Linked DNA regions of Homo sapiens. The protein of the gene in region 2 interacts with the protein of the main gene of each other region in a biochemical or structural test. Each region holds a gene or a part of one and is shown on either strand. Other genes may lie near its edges.

The links. The genes of interacting proteins can lie anywhere in the genome.
Region 1: the proteins of INTS11 (region 2) and NSMF form a complex in vitro, tested with the Homo sapiens proteins (one study listed by BioGRID).

What each region holds. Positions count from the first base shown.
Region 1 is NC_000009.12:137,456,332-137,464,326, forward strand, and holds the start of NSMF (NMDA receptor synaptonuclear signaling and neuronal migration factor), read right to left. Parts: upstream 3,004-7,995; 5' UTR 2,772-3,003; coding exon 2,701-2,771; intron 2,219-2,700; coding exon 2,157-2,218; intron 1,571-2,156; coding exon 1,076-1,570; intron 156-1,075; coding exon 80-155; intron 1-79. Other genes in the region: PNPLA7 (patatin-like phospholipase domain-containing protein 7), read right to left, coding at 4,062-4,145, 4,303-4,406, 5,205-5,289, 5,600-5,710, 5,848-6,000, 6,354-6,502, 7,084-7,200, 7,795-7,864. UniProt on the Homo sapiens protein: Couples NMDA-sensitive glutamate receptor signaling to the nucleus and triggers long-lasting changes in the cytoarchitecture of dendrites and spine synapse processes. Part of the cAMP response element-binding protein (CREB) shut-off signaling pathway.
Region 2 is NC_000001.11:1,314,661-1,321,676, forward strand, and holds part of INTS11 (integrator complex subunit 11), read right to left. Parts: intron 6,434-7,016; coding exon 6,336-6,433; intron 5,870-6,335; coding exon 5,796-5,869; intron 4,865-5,795; coding exon 4,636-4,864; intron 959-4,635; coding exon 860-958; intron 779-859; coding exon 744-778; intron 303-743; coding exon 164-302; intron 1-163.

The sequences.
Region 1 (7,995 bases), on a different chromosome or scaffold from region 2:
ACTGGGAAAAAGTGCTGTTTCCTGAGCAGCAGAAAGAGACCACCCAACCCTGACCCCAAGTCGTGGGCACAAGACTCACGCTTGCATAGTTGTGGTTGCTGTCTGGAAGCTGAAAAGATTTTCCTTGGGGAACCAGGTACGAATAGGGATGTCGTCTAAGAGAGACAAAAAGGAGCGGTGGCTGGGTGAAGTAGGGGTTCCTGAAGCCTCTCCCTCCCTGTTGGGAAGCAGATGCTTCTGGGTCCAGGGGTCAGCAGAAGCTGGCAGCCAGGGCGGGTGGGGGGAGGGTGGCATCCCCACACGGGCACAGAGGGCAGTGCTCGAATGTCTGCTGCTCACTCACCAAGACCACGCTCTTGGTAACTTGACGCTTTGATTTTTTTGGCTTAACTTTCCCTTTGGCCACCCAAAGTTTGAGAAACATTCCTTTGAAAGCACAGTCTGTCTCCAGGAGGCCCAGGAAAACAATGCGTCTGTTTCCCTTGGGCAGAAGAGGCTCTGAGGCCTTCTCTGCAGCCCCCATGCTCTAGCTGGAGGCCCTCACCGAGGCTAGAGACCACCTTGCTGAGGGCTGTCCCCTTCCGAGGGCCCCCACAGCCTTTCCCTGATGCCCAAGTGTGGGGACAGTGGAGTGACTTTCTGCCTGGTGGACAAGCTACCACACAACTCAACAACCCTGGGGAAAGATGCCCACTGCCTGGCTGGGCCCCAACAGCTCCCCAGGACTCTCGGAGGGCAGCCCAGTCTCCTGATTAAGCGGTGCTTCCTCCCTACATATCCCTTAAGATCCTCCCAGGCCCCCTCCTCCAGGAAGCACTCCTTGATTGACCTGGTGCTAGCAGGGCGAAAGCGGACTGTGAGGCCTGGCAGATTTTGCTGAGGAGCTGAGGGAGCTCACAGCTCATAGGGTGTGGAGGCCGCAGCAGAAGCCTGCCGGTTTTAATCTTGAGTCCGCTGGCATGCTGTGACCTGAGCACCTGTTCTCTGTTCCAAGCCTCACAGTGGCTGCTGCTGTCAGACCCTGGCAGCGGCATGCACCCCCAAACCTGTCTATGCCCTGACACAAACCCCTCACCAGACACACGGTCAACGCTGTACATCCTCTCCAGCTTCTTGCGGCGACCGGAGGTCTCAGGCAGAGGTGGCTGGTCCAGCCCAAAGGCCCGAGGGGTGGGGCCAGGAGCCAGCTGGGCACATCCGGGGCACTCCTTGGAGCCCTGGCGGCTGCCCGCCCAGCTCTGGCAGGGCCTGCTGACGTCCTCCCGGCTGCCACCAGGGCTGGCGCGCAGGGGCTGGCTGTGATGGTGAGGGTGCCGCTGCCGCCGCCCCTTCACCACCGCCAGCTCAATGGCCTCCGCCTCAGGGCTGGGCAGCAGGGCAGGCTCCCCAGAGATGGTGTACACTCGAGGCTGAGGGCCCTCGCCTGCGGGCTTCCTAATGCTGGGCTCCTCTGAGAGGCTGCCCTCGTAGCAGCCGTTGGAGACGAGGGACAGGCGGCGCTTGTTCTGGGGGGCCGGCTGCATCTCGGGGGACCCGTCGTGGCCAGAGTAGGCATCAGCCAGCAGGTGATCTAGGAGAGACACTGAGTGAGCCTGCCTGCCGCGTGTGGGCCCCCCGCTGCCGGTTTCATAGCAGGCCGAAGGCAGAGAACACCCAGTGGGCACCTGGCCTCTGTGGGGGACTAGGGCTGCCCAAACCCTAGTCACTGGCGTGTTTCTGAGCCCCTCACTCCTATCTGGGCCTGAAGCTCTAGCATGTGCGTGGGGGCTGGGTGACGCTGTGCTACCTGTGTGCGGTCCTGCCGGGTAGGAACACGCAGGCCATCCCCCAGCCTGCGATCGCACCGTTTGCCTGGTGCCAACTTCCCCCTCCCCCCACCAGCTGGCCCCCAGAGGCAGTGGTGCCAGCCCTGGGGGAGCCAGGAGGCCTGTTGCCATGCCAACGGCCCAGGCGGGGTGGGTGCCATGGTGACGAGCGGCTGGGAACTGCTCCTGGGGCTCGGGCAGGGAGGGCAGGGGATGTAAGGAAGCCAGGCCGGCAGGGCGCCGGGCCCACGCGCAACCAATGCCCCTCACGCTCCACCCCCGGAGGCAGGGATCAGCATCCCTTGGGCTGGGGGGTCTGGGCGGCCCTGGCACGGCCTCGCGTGCCCCTACCTGCGCCGTTGCGGTTCTCAGGGTGACTCTGGGACAGGTACTCTCCAAACGCTCGGGCTGCTCTGAGGGTGGACAGAGGGCACGGTCAGAGGCCACGGCACGACCCTCCCAAACACCGGGCCGCGCAAGAGCCGGGGGTCCGGTCCCCAGCCAGGCCCTCGGCGTCTGGAAGGAGGGTCGGGGTCGTCCCCCTCCGGGAGCCCACACACCCTTGGTCCTGGTGCGCCCTGGCCAGGCCTGCAGGCCCGGCCCCTGCCCGTCGGACCGTGGAGAGGGGTCGCGAGGCCGGTCGGCTGCTGTTCCCCGGGGGAACCGAGGCCACTCCCGACCTGGGGGGTGCGCTCGCCCACCACGCGCTCGCGAGGGGAGGGGAGGGAAGAGCAGGGCAGGGGACCAGGAAGAGGGAGGCGCGGGGCGCGGGGAGGGCGCCTCAGTGGCAGAGGCCGGGGCCCGGGAGCCCGGGGAGCACCGCGGGGCAGGGGCGGACTCGGGCGGGGTCGGAGGTCCAGGGCGGGGTGCGGGAAGGCGGCCCCGCCGCACTCACCGCACTTTGGCCGCCACCGAGGACATGGCCTCGCTCCTCAGCGCCCTCCTCCTGGAGGCGGCGGCGCCCATGGTCGAGGCGGCGGCGCATCCCCCGGGCCTCAGAGCGCGCCCCGCGCCCGCCGCCTCCGCCGGGGTAGCCGCGCCGCACCGGGGGTCGCGCTCGGGCTCGGGCTCGGGGTCTCGCTCGGGCTCCGGCTCGGGCTTGGGCTCGGGGTCGGGCTCGGGGTCGGGCCCGGTCCCCGCATGGCCGCACCCGGCGCTCCGCGCGTGCCGCCGCTCCCGGGAGAGCGCTGCCCGAACCGAGGGCCGGCCCCGCCCATCGTGACGTCAGGGCCCGGGCGGGCCCAGAGGGGCGGTCGGCCCCACCTACCGTGACGTCAGGGCCCCGGAGAGCTCGGAGAGGACATGTGGCCCCGCCCACCGTGACGTCCGGGCCCGGGTTGAGTTGGGGGCGGGGCCGGGCGGCCTGGCTCCGCGCCCTCTCGTCCAGGCCTCCAGAGCGGGGAAACTGAGGCCAGCGGCCCCCTGGTCGCAAAGTCCTGGGCCCTCGGCCCTCACGATCTGCTGCTCAGACCTGCAGGATCACAGGGAGGCCGGTTCTCCCTCCCCTTACACAAAAGGGCTCCCTGTGCAGTTTGGGAACTGGAAACCGAAGGGGAAGCCAGTTTAGGGGGCACCCAGTTTGCACGAGGCCAGAGAGAGACAGAGGGGCCCGTCCTGGTCCTGGGGGGCCACAGCTCTATGCAGACTCTGGACGCCCTACCTGCCTGGCCTGCATTTGCCGCCCTAGGGCTCTCAGGCCCCAGCAGTGGGGTCCTTTGAGGAGGACTGGGGACTGCCCAGCCTCAGGGACCACCCGCATCAGGGAGAACCAGTAGTGTTTCTTTGCCACAGGGACCTCGGCCCGGGAGACACGTCCAACAGTGAGATCCACCTTTATTGAAACATCACACGGCAGCATCAGGGCTCCCACACCTCACAGGGCAGCAGGCAGTTCACAGGACAGCAGGCAGTTCACAGGGCTTTGGGGGCCTCACAGGGCAGCAGGTGGTTCACAGGGCTTCGGGGGGCCTCACAGGGCTTCGGGGGGCCTCACAGGGCTGCAGGGGGTTCACAGAGCTTCAGGGGCCTCACAGAGCTTCAGGGGCCTCACAGGACTGCAGGGGGGCTCACAGGGCCCTGTATGCAGGGCTGCTGGTACAAAGAAGAGGCCCAGAGAACCCTAACACAGCCTGGGGCCCCGGGGAAGTCAGGGCTTCCAGCAGGGCAGGTACAGAGGCCCCTAGGACTTGGCAGGAGCCTCAGCCTTGGGGACAGTCCCACGGAAGACGCTGCATCCGGGCTCTTTAGCAGAGGCCTCTACCCGTCCTGGTCAGAGGAGCCCTCAGACAGTTTTGGGAAAGCCAGACTGGGGTGTCGATGCCGCAGTGAGGACTCGTCCTCCTGCAAGCAGACCGCATGTTCCAGGTGAGGACCAGGCAGGGCAGGGGCTCTGCAGCGCTGGTAACCCGGTGGGACCACAGGGAGGGAGTGGCCGGCACAGGGCCAGGCACCAAGGCTCAGCTGTGGGCACCAGGTGGGACCATGCCCAGCTCCTCACCAAGTCTGAGCCCTGCTGGGCTGAGGTGCTCTGGAAGTCTGCGTATGCATCCCTGGGGACGTCCAGCAGCTCCTCCTCGTACTCCGTCTGGTAGTCAGATTCGTCTGGCACCGAGGGTAGGGCTGCGTCAGTCCCCTCCCAAGGAAGGGACCGTACCCAGCATAGCCACACTCAGAGGCAGAACCGGCCACAGATGCCCACCCCCGCCTCCAAGGTGGCCCGGGGCCCTACACGCAGCCACCTGGTCCCAGGGCAGCCCTGCACACCACCCCTGGTTCTGTCTGGCTCCAGCTTTGCCCCAGCACATCACTTCGTGGGTCTTCCACAAGGACAAGGAGCGGGCAGACACTCCTCCCCTTGTCAGCCAAGCACCCTGAGGGCTCCAGCACCCCAGACCTGGCAACTGTGGATAGGGGCTGCCTTGCCCAGGGCCCTCTCGGCCTGCGGCAGCCATGAAGACGTCTCCCAGGAGAATGTCCAGTTCTGCTGTGAGGAGGCCACTGGCTGAAGGCCCAAGCGCAGGGCCCTGGATGGAGCATGGAGGGTAGTGGACCCGCCCTTCTTGTCCTGCGGCCCCTCCAACAAGCAGCCTTCATTCCCATTTCCCACTGGGTGGGGTGGGAGGCAAAACGTGGTTCTACTTCAGGCCTGAGGTGTGGCTGGGAGTTGAGGTGAATGAAGGGCAGGGGCTGGGTGACCCGGGGTGGTCACAGTCCCACTGCTGTGGGAACACGTGGTGCCCGGGACGGAGGAGTGCCACCAAGCACCCCAGCTGCTGGAGCCTGGGCGTGGACGTGGGCGGGAGGGGAGGCCGTGGGCCTCTGGGGTGGGGGGGTTCAAGCCCAACACAGCATCAGGAGGTCACGCACGTCTCCACGGCTTCGTCTTGCGCCTCCACTCACCATCCACCATGGCGGGCTTGGCGGGCTCAATGCGAGACACAATTTCGGCAAGGTCCGTGAAGGAGGCGTTGGGACAGGTGAGGACCTAGGGGTGGGGTGAGGACAGCACGTTGCCTGTGGACACCCGCCTGCCAGTCCCCAGCCTGCTTCCTGTGGGGAGGCCCCACCCACCCTGCGCCCTCTCTGCAGCCTCCGCCTGCCCCCCAAGTAAGGGCAGGGACCGGGGAGATGCGCAGTCCTGAGCAATCCTTGTCCTGGCCCTGGAGTCTTTGGCCAGGGGGGCAGGGCCTGTGGCCTGAGGAGCTGGGCGTGGCCTGATGAACTGGGCGTGGGCGTGGCCCGAAGAACTGGGCGCGGTCCGGGGAGCTGGGCGTGGTCCGGACGCCCGTACTCACCGCACTCGCGGGCTTCTTGCTCGGCCCCTGCTGGTCGCGGAGCATCTTCTCCAGCACGCCGCTGCGGCCCCAGATGTCAAACACCGTGCGCCCGTGCTGGTAGCCCACTTCCTGTGCACACCCCCAGGGCCCCGTCAGGAGGTGTGGGGAGCCCCCCACTTCCTGTGTTCTCAAAAGGGGGAAGCGAGGAGGGGCAGCCACCAGAGTGCCTCCGCCCGCCTCCGCCGCCGCGGGTGGCCGGCACTCACGCAGATCTCGTTGAACTTGCCGAAGTCCAGGGTGCTGTAGCTGTCGATGGGGGGGCGCAGGTACTCGCAGTAGTCACTGCTCTTCACCACCTCCAGCTGCCGCACGCAACACACGTAGGCCAGGCGCGTCTGAATCTCTGCCATGTTCAACACCTGCTGCCGTCACAGCCGCCTGAGTCTCCTGCCCCGGCCCCTACCCCGTCCCAGCCTGGCCCGTGGCGCAGGACAGGTTCTGGGGACCCATCCTCTGGGGTAGGTAGGTTCTGGGGGGAGAGGGTAGCAGCACCCGGCCGGGGGTCCTCCCTGCGGGCTGCCACAGCCTTCAGGCCCGTCCGGCCTCGTGCCTTCCTTCGCCCGAGTTGGGCTCAGGCAGGGGTGGTGAGGGGTGGCCCCAGACCTGCTGGCCTCAGAGCCCAGGAGCGACCCCCACTCCCCTGCCGCAGGACAGGTGTGGAGCTGCAGGGAGGAGCAGCAGGGACAGCCCAGCCTGCCCGGTAGCACCCCACCTTGACTTTCGTGGCCAAGGGGTTCCAGCGTTTCCACAGCAGCCACCACCCAGACAGCGCATCCCCATAGTTGGTGAGGTCCGTCTCATCTCGGCTGCCCACGTCAATGGCGATCACCACTTTTGCCCCCATGGACCGGGCCACATCCGCTAGGGAGAAGCCAGCCCTGGTTACCCCCTGGACAGGCATGCAGAGCCAGGGGACGGGGGCAGAGCCTGCCTCTCCGAGCCCTGACGTGGGGGTTGTGGGGTCTCCTCTCCGCCATTACACCTTCTAGAGGCAGAAGACCCACATGCCCAGCTCGATGGGCAGCTGTGGGCACACGGCTGTGTCCTGGGCCTTTCTGACCGTATATCCCACAGGTGACAGGAGTGGCCTGGCCTGGCCCCCAGCAAGCTCGACACCTGCAGGCTGTTAGTTTCTGACTGTGGGCACAGATGGGGCTTAATTGCTCCCAGTTCCTCGACTTGGCCTTTGTTCTGCATGCTGCTGAGCTGACAAACAGGGCCATATGCTGGAGCACATGCTGCCGGTGCCTGCGTGTGCATGTACACGCGTGTGCATGTTCTCGGAGCTCTGATGCCAGCCTGACATTTTCCCTTGGCATACTCTAAGGAAAACGTGTTCCAGCCCAGGCTTCTTGGAGCGGAGGCAGCTGTGGCAGGGGCCGTGGGGCGGCGTGACCCAGGAGCCTGTGCTCCTGCCGGGCGTGGTCCCCCCACCGCAGTACCTGGGAGGTTGTTGATGTAGCCCCCGTCCATCAGCAGGTGTCCGTCCTTCGGGTCACAGAGAGGGGGCATGTAACCGGACAGGGACATGCTGGCACGCACGTACCACCACAGGGAGCCTGGGGAGGGGGCCCGGAGCTGCTGGTTACCCGGAGGAGGCTCCTCCTGGGTCCAGGGTTCAGGGCCTTGCCACTGCAGTCCTGGAGCTGGTAGGTCCCAACTCTCTGAGGCCGCCTCCACAGAGGGAAGCTCATGGCCCAAGGGCTGAACAAAATTGAGTTCTTTCTCTGGGGTCGCACTGCATTACATGTGCCCAGGACTTCGAACTGCTGTGACCCCCTCACCCCAGGACTGAGGGAGCCCCTCACCCCATGACCGAGTGAACCCCTCATCCCCCTGAACCAGGTGAGCCCCTCACCCCAGGACTCAGGGAGCCCCTCACTTTGTCCTCTCACATGGTATCCATCAGTCTAGCCCAACATTGCTGATTCTGTGAGGGTCTCCTCCAGCCTTCTGAGGTCTCTGGCCCAGGCCACGCCCCCTCCTGTCTGTGCCCCTAGTAGGGGCATCCTGTGTCCTCCATGGACAAAGCTGCCCATACGTCTGCATCCTTCAGGAGACCCCGCGGCCTTCCCAACCCCTGGGGCTGCTGAGCTCTCCCCCTGCCCACACCTCGCACCCAAGCGGCCGCCCTGCGCAGCAGGAGTGCTCACCGTCGGTGTGGACCCGCATGGCCGAGGCTGTGATGTCGGTGGTGATGGCGAAATAAGGAATCCACAGGTCCTGCGGGCGGACGGGGCTCAGATGGGCCCTCTCCCATCACGCTCCTGTCCTGTGTCTGGGGAGGCTGACCCAGGGCCAAGAGGTGGGGGGCCAGGAGGGGACAGGCACTGGGGGCTGCATGGGCTCCTGAG
Region 2 (7,016 bases):
TGAGTTTTCCTCCTCAATGTTGAGCAAATCTTCTTCCCTCCCTGCCTGAAAATGCAGTACCCCCCACCCTGAGACCCTGACCCATGCCAAGGGCAGCCAAGCCTGCCAGAAAGACCAGCCCAGCATGGCCGAGGGCCCATGTCCCCACCCCTGCTGCAGCTACCTTCCCACCACGCTCCACGGTCTCGTGGACTTTCTTCAGGAAGTCTCGCTCCCGGCAGCGCTTGGAGTCACGGATGGTCGTGGCGTACGTGGACTCTGTGATGAGCAGGTTGGGGCGGCACTTGTCAATCCAGGCAGCTCTGGAACACGGGGGTGGGGGTGTGAGCCACGATGCACTGTCCCCACGGTTGCAGGGCTGGGTGTGACAAGCTGGACCCCAGTACCACGCCCAGCCGCCTTCCTAGGTCACTCTGGCTGGAAAGAGCCAGCTGGTAAAATGCTGTGGGCAGCACACTTGGGAAGAGAGAGGAGAGACAGAGGCACCCACCCAGACACTTCGGAAGAGCGAGACAGAGGCACCCACCCAGAGACTTGGGAAGAGAGAGAAGGAGGGACAGAGGCCCCTGCCTGGACCCTGTGCCTTCGCGCATTTGGGCCCAGAACGAAGGGGGCTCTCCAGGCCGCACAGGACATGGGAGACACTGCCAGGCTGGCCACTCAAGGGCTGGCACCCTGACACCTGCAAGGGTCCTGAGCTCCAGGGGGGCCCACGGGACAAAAAGACACCTCAGCCTACTTACCCTAAGTGTCGGTCTGGGGTCATGTTATAATCACCCTGGTGAACGATCAAGGATGCCATGAGGAGGGTGCCTCCCACCCCAGCAGCCCCTCCCAAGCCTCAAGCCCTTCCACTGACCGTGTAGACCACAGACTCTGAGCCCACTTTAATCTGGAACATGGCTGCCCCCAGCACGTGGCCTGCATAGTAGGCCTTGATCTCCAGCTCATCATCTACCTGTGGAGGACAGGGCTGCGCTCAGGCTGTGTCCTCACAGCAGAGGGGCGGGGAGTGAGGGAGGCGGGGGACGGGAAGCGCGGGAGGCGGGGGTGGGGAGCGTGGGGGAAGGGGAGCGAGGGGGCGGGGGCGGGAGCGAGGGAGGTGGGGGCGGGGAGGGAGGGAGGGAGGCGGGCAGCGAGGGAGGCAGGGGCAGGGAGTGAGGGGGGCGGGGGCAGGGAGGGAGGCGGGGCGGGGAGCGAGGGCACTGCACTGAGCTTTTCAGTCCCTGTTGCTCACACACAGCATCCAGTTCACAAGGGACGGGCAACGTGGACAAAGAACGAAAGACAACGGACAAAAAACTGAAGGGACCTGAAATTGGAGTTTCCAGCGTGGACTTTGAATACATGACAGAGAAAAGACAAGGTTCAGAATGTTGGCGGCCAGGCCTAAGGTGGATCCCTTGGGGTCAGGAATTGGAGACCAGCCTGGCCAACATGGTGAAACCCCGTCTCTACTAAAAATACAAAAGTAAGCCAGGTGTGGAAGTGCGTGCCTGTAATCCCAACTGCTCAGGAGGCTGAGGCAGGAGAATCGCTTGAACCTGGGAAGTGGAGGTTGCAGTGTACTGAGATCACGCCACTGCACTCTAGCCTGGGCAATGGGGCGGGACTCCATCTCGGTAAAAACAAACAAAAAAATACTGGGCTGGGCACAGTGGCTCACACCTTTAATCCCAGCACTTGGGGAGACCAAGGTGGGCAGATCATCTGAAGTCAGGAGTTCAAGACCATCCTGGCCGACACGGTGAAACCCTGTCTCTACTAAAAATACAAAAGTTAGCTGGGCATGGTGGTGGGTGCTTGTAATCCCAGCTACTCAGTAGGCTAAGGCAGAATTACTTGAACCCGGGAGGCGGAGATTGCAGTGAGCTGAGATTGTGCCATTGCACTCCAGCCTGGGCAACAAGAGCGAGAGTGTCAAAAACAAAAATTGGCAAAAAACTAGACTTCTTTTAAATTTAATTTATTCATTTAAAACTTGCCGGGTGCGGTGGCTCATGCCTGTAATCCCAGCACTTTGGGAGGCTGAGGCGGGTGGATCACCTGAGGTTGGGAATTCAAGACCAGCCTGACCAACACGGAAAAAGCCCGTCTCTACTAAAAATACAAAATTAGCCGGATGTGGTGGTGTGCGCCTGTAATCCCAGCTACTCGGGAGGCTGAGGCAGGAGAACTGCTTGAACCCGGGAGGCGGAGGTTGCAGTAAGCCGAGATCGCGCCACTGCACTCCAGCCTGGGCGACAGAGCGAGACTGTGTCTCAAAAAAAAATAAATAAATAAAATTGAGAGACAGGGTGGGGCTGTCACCCAGGCTGCAGTGGCGCAATCATGGCTCACTCAAACTCCTGGGCTCAAGCGTCCTCCCGCCTCCACCTCCGCCTCCCAAATAGCTGGGACTATAGGCACGCACCCACCACGCCAGGCTAATTTAAAAACAAAATTTTGGCCAGGCGCAGTGGCTCACTCTTGTAATCCCAGCACTCTGGGAGACCAAGGCGGGTGGATCACCTGAGATCAGGAGTTCAAGACCAGCCTGACCAACATGGTGAAACCCCCGTCTCTACTAAAAAAAAATACAAAATTAACTGGGTGTGGTGGCACACGCCTGTAATCCCAGCTACTCGGGAGGCTGAGGCAGGAGAATCGCTTGAACCCAGAAGGCGGAGGTTCAAGGTGAGCTGAGATCGCACCACTGCACTACAGCCTGGGCAATGAGAGCGAAACTCCATCTCAAAAAAAAAAGAAAAAAAAAAAGAATTCAACAGATGAATTTAACACCATATGACACATAACCAGAAGAGAATCCATGAACTGAAAGACACCAGAGGGAATATCCATCAGGAAACAGGAAAGACAAACAGATGACGGAGTTTCAAGAGGTTGAACGTCAGGCTCTCGGGGTCCCTGGAGGAGCAGGAACGGGGCAGAAACAACACTGGAAGAAACATGATGAAGGCCTCAAGCCACAGATCCAAGAGGCCTCAAACTCTAAACAGGCTGAGGATACATGTCAGCCCATCAGAGCACAAGCACCAAAAACCAAGGCTCCTGCTCAGACCCTACGGCTGCCCATGCCCAGAGACAGAACGTTGTTTGCAAAGTGCAGAGACAAAATACTGTCAACCTAAAATCTTACACACCTAAGGGAAAAAAAGTCCTTTAAGAACGAGGATAAAGTAAATCCATTTGCAGGCAAATAAATTTTTTTTTTTTGAGCCGGAGTCTCGCGTCTCGCTCTGTCTCCCAGGCTGGAGTGCAGTGGTGGGATCTTGGCTCACTGCAAGCTCCGCCTCCCAGGTTCACGCCATTCTCCTGCCTTTCAGCCTCCCGAGTAGCTGGGACTGCAGGCGCCCGCACCACGCCCAGCTAATTTTTTTGTATTTTGTTTAGTAGAGACAGGGTTTCACCGTGTTAGCCAGGATGGTCTCGATCTCCTGACCTCGTGATCCGCCTGTCTCGGCCTCCCAAAGTGCTGGGATTACAGGCGTGAGCCACCGCGCCTGGCCAAGGCAAATAAAAATTGACAGAATTCAGCACCAGCAGACCCACACTCATATTCTTCAGGCAGAAGGCAAATTATCCCAAGTAAAAAGTAGAAAAAATGCAGGAAGCCCAACAAAAAGGATAAATATATAAATAAAACTAAGCAAATGTTGGTGTTACCAGGCATTAGAAATGATGTCTTTCTGGGTTTAAAATGTACTGAGGGAGTTGCCAGGTGTGGTGACTCATGCCTGTAATCCGAGCACTTTGAGAGGCTGAGGTGGGAGGATCCCTGGAGCCCAGCCCAGGAGTTCGAGAGCCTTAGCAACACATACCCATCTCTACAAAAAATACCAAAATAAATTAGCTGGGCGTATGGGCACATGCTTGTAGTCCCAGCTACTTGGGAGGCCGAGGTGGGAGATCACCTCAACCCGGGAGGCCGAGGCTGCAGTGAGCCAAGATCACACTCCAGCCTGGGTAACAAAGTGAGACACTGTCAAAAAAAAAAAAAAATTAAAGTTTCACAACAAAAAAGATAAACATACTTCATTTTGACAAGTTCAATCAGAAAATTAAATGTTCCAAAATACATAGGTACCTAATATAGTTTCAAGAAATATAAAAGCAATACCCAGAGATTCGAGTGAGACACAGACAAACCCATAATCTTTGTCAGAAATGGAATTTCACCTGTCACTCGCTGATTTAACCTTCACTTCTTCCCTGACCCACACCCAGAACCAGGCACCCTCCAGAGCTGGCCCATCTCCCCTCCAGCCCCTGCCTCCCTGCCCGGCAACACCCCGGGAGCTCCAGCGAGTCTCTGGCCGCTCCAAGCGCTCTGAGGGCACCAGCCTGTCCCACTCTGGCCATTTCAATGCCGCTCGGACAGAGCCTGGTGGGTTCATAAGCCGGTGCATACCCCCACCCTGCACGTGCTCTCCCGGGTCGGCGCCCAGTCTGGTCTGGGACCCGCATCCTCGCGCTGACGCCTCCTGGTGTCCCCACGGTGCTGGACGCAAGAGTGAGGTGGGGTGGGCTCACCCTGAGGCCCCAGCCTTCCAGAAACTGTGTAGAACGGGCGGAGGGCATGGTTGGTGTGGGGGTGGGCAGTGACTGTGCCAGCTGTGGCCCTGGGAACCTGACCTGGACCGTCTGGTGGAGGTGGACAGCCACCACCTTCTTCATGCAGTCTTTGATCATCTGGGAGGTGAAGAAGTTGGCCTCGCCCTTCTTGTCTACGGCGATCTTGCGGTAGTCCTCCAGCAAGATGGGGCAGATGGCCTGGGTGGGGTGAGTCATGTAGATGGGCCCGTCGTAGCCCACCATCTCGCTGAAGTAGGGGAGTGCCCCGCAGTGGTCCAGGTGGAAGTGGCTAGGGGGACGCAGCACAGGTCAGCCTGGGCCCACCCTGCCCCAGCCTTCACCCCCGCTCTGGGCTTGTGGGTCACTGGCCCCTTCATTCGCCTGCTGTGCGCCAGGCCTCATCCCGAGTACCGAAGAGTCAGTAATGAGCAAACACAAAACTGTCTCCCTGGAACTTTCAGTCTCAAAGTCTAGCAAGGCAATAAGCAAACGGGAAATTGAACACGTCGGTGACGGCGACATGCTCGCGAGACAATGCAAAGCTGCTGAGGGAACCGCGCATAGGGGAGCCGCTGGCTTTTCAGGCAGTCAGGACAGGCTGAGTGGAGCTGCAGGTGAAGGTGGCACAGACCTGAGGGCAAGGGCAGCGCCTGGCAAGCCCCAGGAAGGCACTGGGGACCCCACCGTGTCTGAGAAGAAACCACAACCACGAGGGGCTCAGGGGCAGCTGAGGACACTGCCTCCGGAGAGGAGAAGGGGCTTCTCCAGGCTTCACGGGCCTGGCTGCTGGGGAGGACAGGGCAGGGAAGGGCAGGGGGCCAGCAGGAGTGCTGTGGCCGTCCAGACGAGGCCACCCAGACCAGCGGGTCATGAGCTGCTGAACCCTAAAGGCTGGGGTCAGGGCAGACTCGGGACTCTGGAATCGCCAACAAGACAGTGGGGTTTAAAGATCCTGAGACAGTGAAGGCATCAGAGAGGGTGAAGCCTGGAGGGCCGGGTTCAGAAAGTAGGGTTCAGAGGGCAGGGCCGGAAGAACAGACAGAGACCAGGCCATGTGTGTGACCAGTAAGGCAGGCAGGGAGCAGATCCTGGGGCCTAGAAGCCCCCTGAGGATCAAGGATGGCACAGGCCCCTTGCCAAACGCTGCCGAGACCAAGCAAGGTGGCCCAAGCCCCACAGGCACAGACATGGGACCCTCAAGGCCCCCAACAGGAACCCACCTAATGATCACACAGTCCAGGAAGTCTGTTAGGCGGCCGTTCTGGGTGATGTAGGAGAAGTCAGGGAAGCGTCGCTAGGAAGGATGTGGGGGTTTCAGGTTGCACAGTGGTCTCCAGGCAGCATCTGGGGCCACCCATGCCCCAGGGAGGGGCCCCCAGGAAGGGGGGTTCTATGTGCAGACTCAGGCTGGGCACTCCCATCCCGCAGGTGGCACCAGGACCCCTGGCTGCTCACAGCATCCGGAGGGGCCGAGGTTACCCCCAACCTCACTGACAGATGTGAGCTGGAAGCTGAGCCCAGGGTCTCACGGAGTCCAGCCTACAGGACCCCGGGGCTGGGGCTCAGCGCCAGCACAGGGGGACCCCACCATGCAGGGGCTCACCTCGGCCAGGCCCACCCATCCCTGCTCCCCACAGGGTGCAGCCATCCAAGCACAACCACTGCTGCCCACCACCCCACTGTCCCGGCTCTGAGGCCCAGGGTCCAGCTGTGGATGGCCGGCTCTCCCAGCCTCTGGGCCTCCTGCCCAAGGGACTCACGTCGTCATTGAAGCCCATGTGCATTCCACAGTCCAGCATGACATTCTTGCCCGCAATGGAGACCAGGATGCAGCTTCGGCCCACGTCCTGGCCGGCCCCTACTCGAGGGAGGGCAGATGAGTCACTGCTGCGCCCCCCGCCCCCTGTGCTGCCTCCCCAAGCTCTGCAGGACCCCAGTGCACTGAGGAAACCGGACCAAGTCTGCTGTGTGGACAGACACATGGGCCAAGAAGCAGGGCCACCCCTACTCACAGGAAGGGGGACACAGGGGACCATGCCCCACACCATCATGTCCAGGGTGGAGGCTGGCAGCCCACACGCCCTCCCCCGCCAGCTTCCCCTGGCCTCTTAAGGTGGCCACGGCCTGCTGGCTAAGTAGTGGGCACTGTGCTGTGGCCCTCAGCCTCCAACAGAGACAACGGCTGGTCTGTGGGGCCAACACCTCGGTCAGAGTCACTCCTGGGCTGTGGCTGGACCCCCAGCAGAGCTGCAAACCAATGAGGCCACCTTCTCCAGGATCTTTCCCCAGGCAGGCAAGGCAGTAAGTGACTAAGTGCTGGCACTGGGTGTTCTCTGGTGGTGCGGCTGTGGAGGGGCGCCACACAGCCTCAGCCATGCCATAGCGAACACGGTGCCAGTGGTCCAGCAGTGGCCAGCGTGGCAACACGAGCCTCACACCAC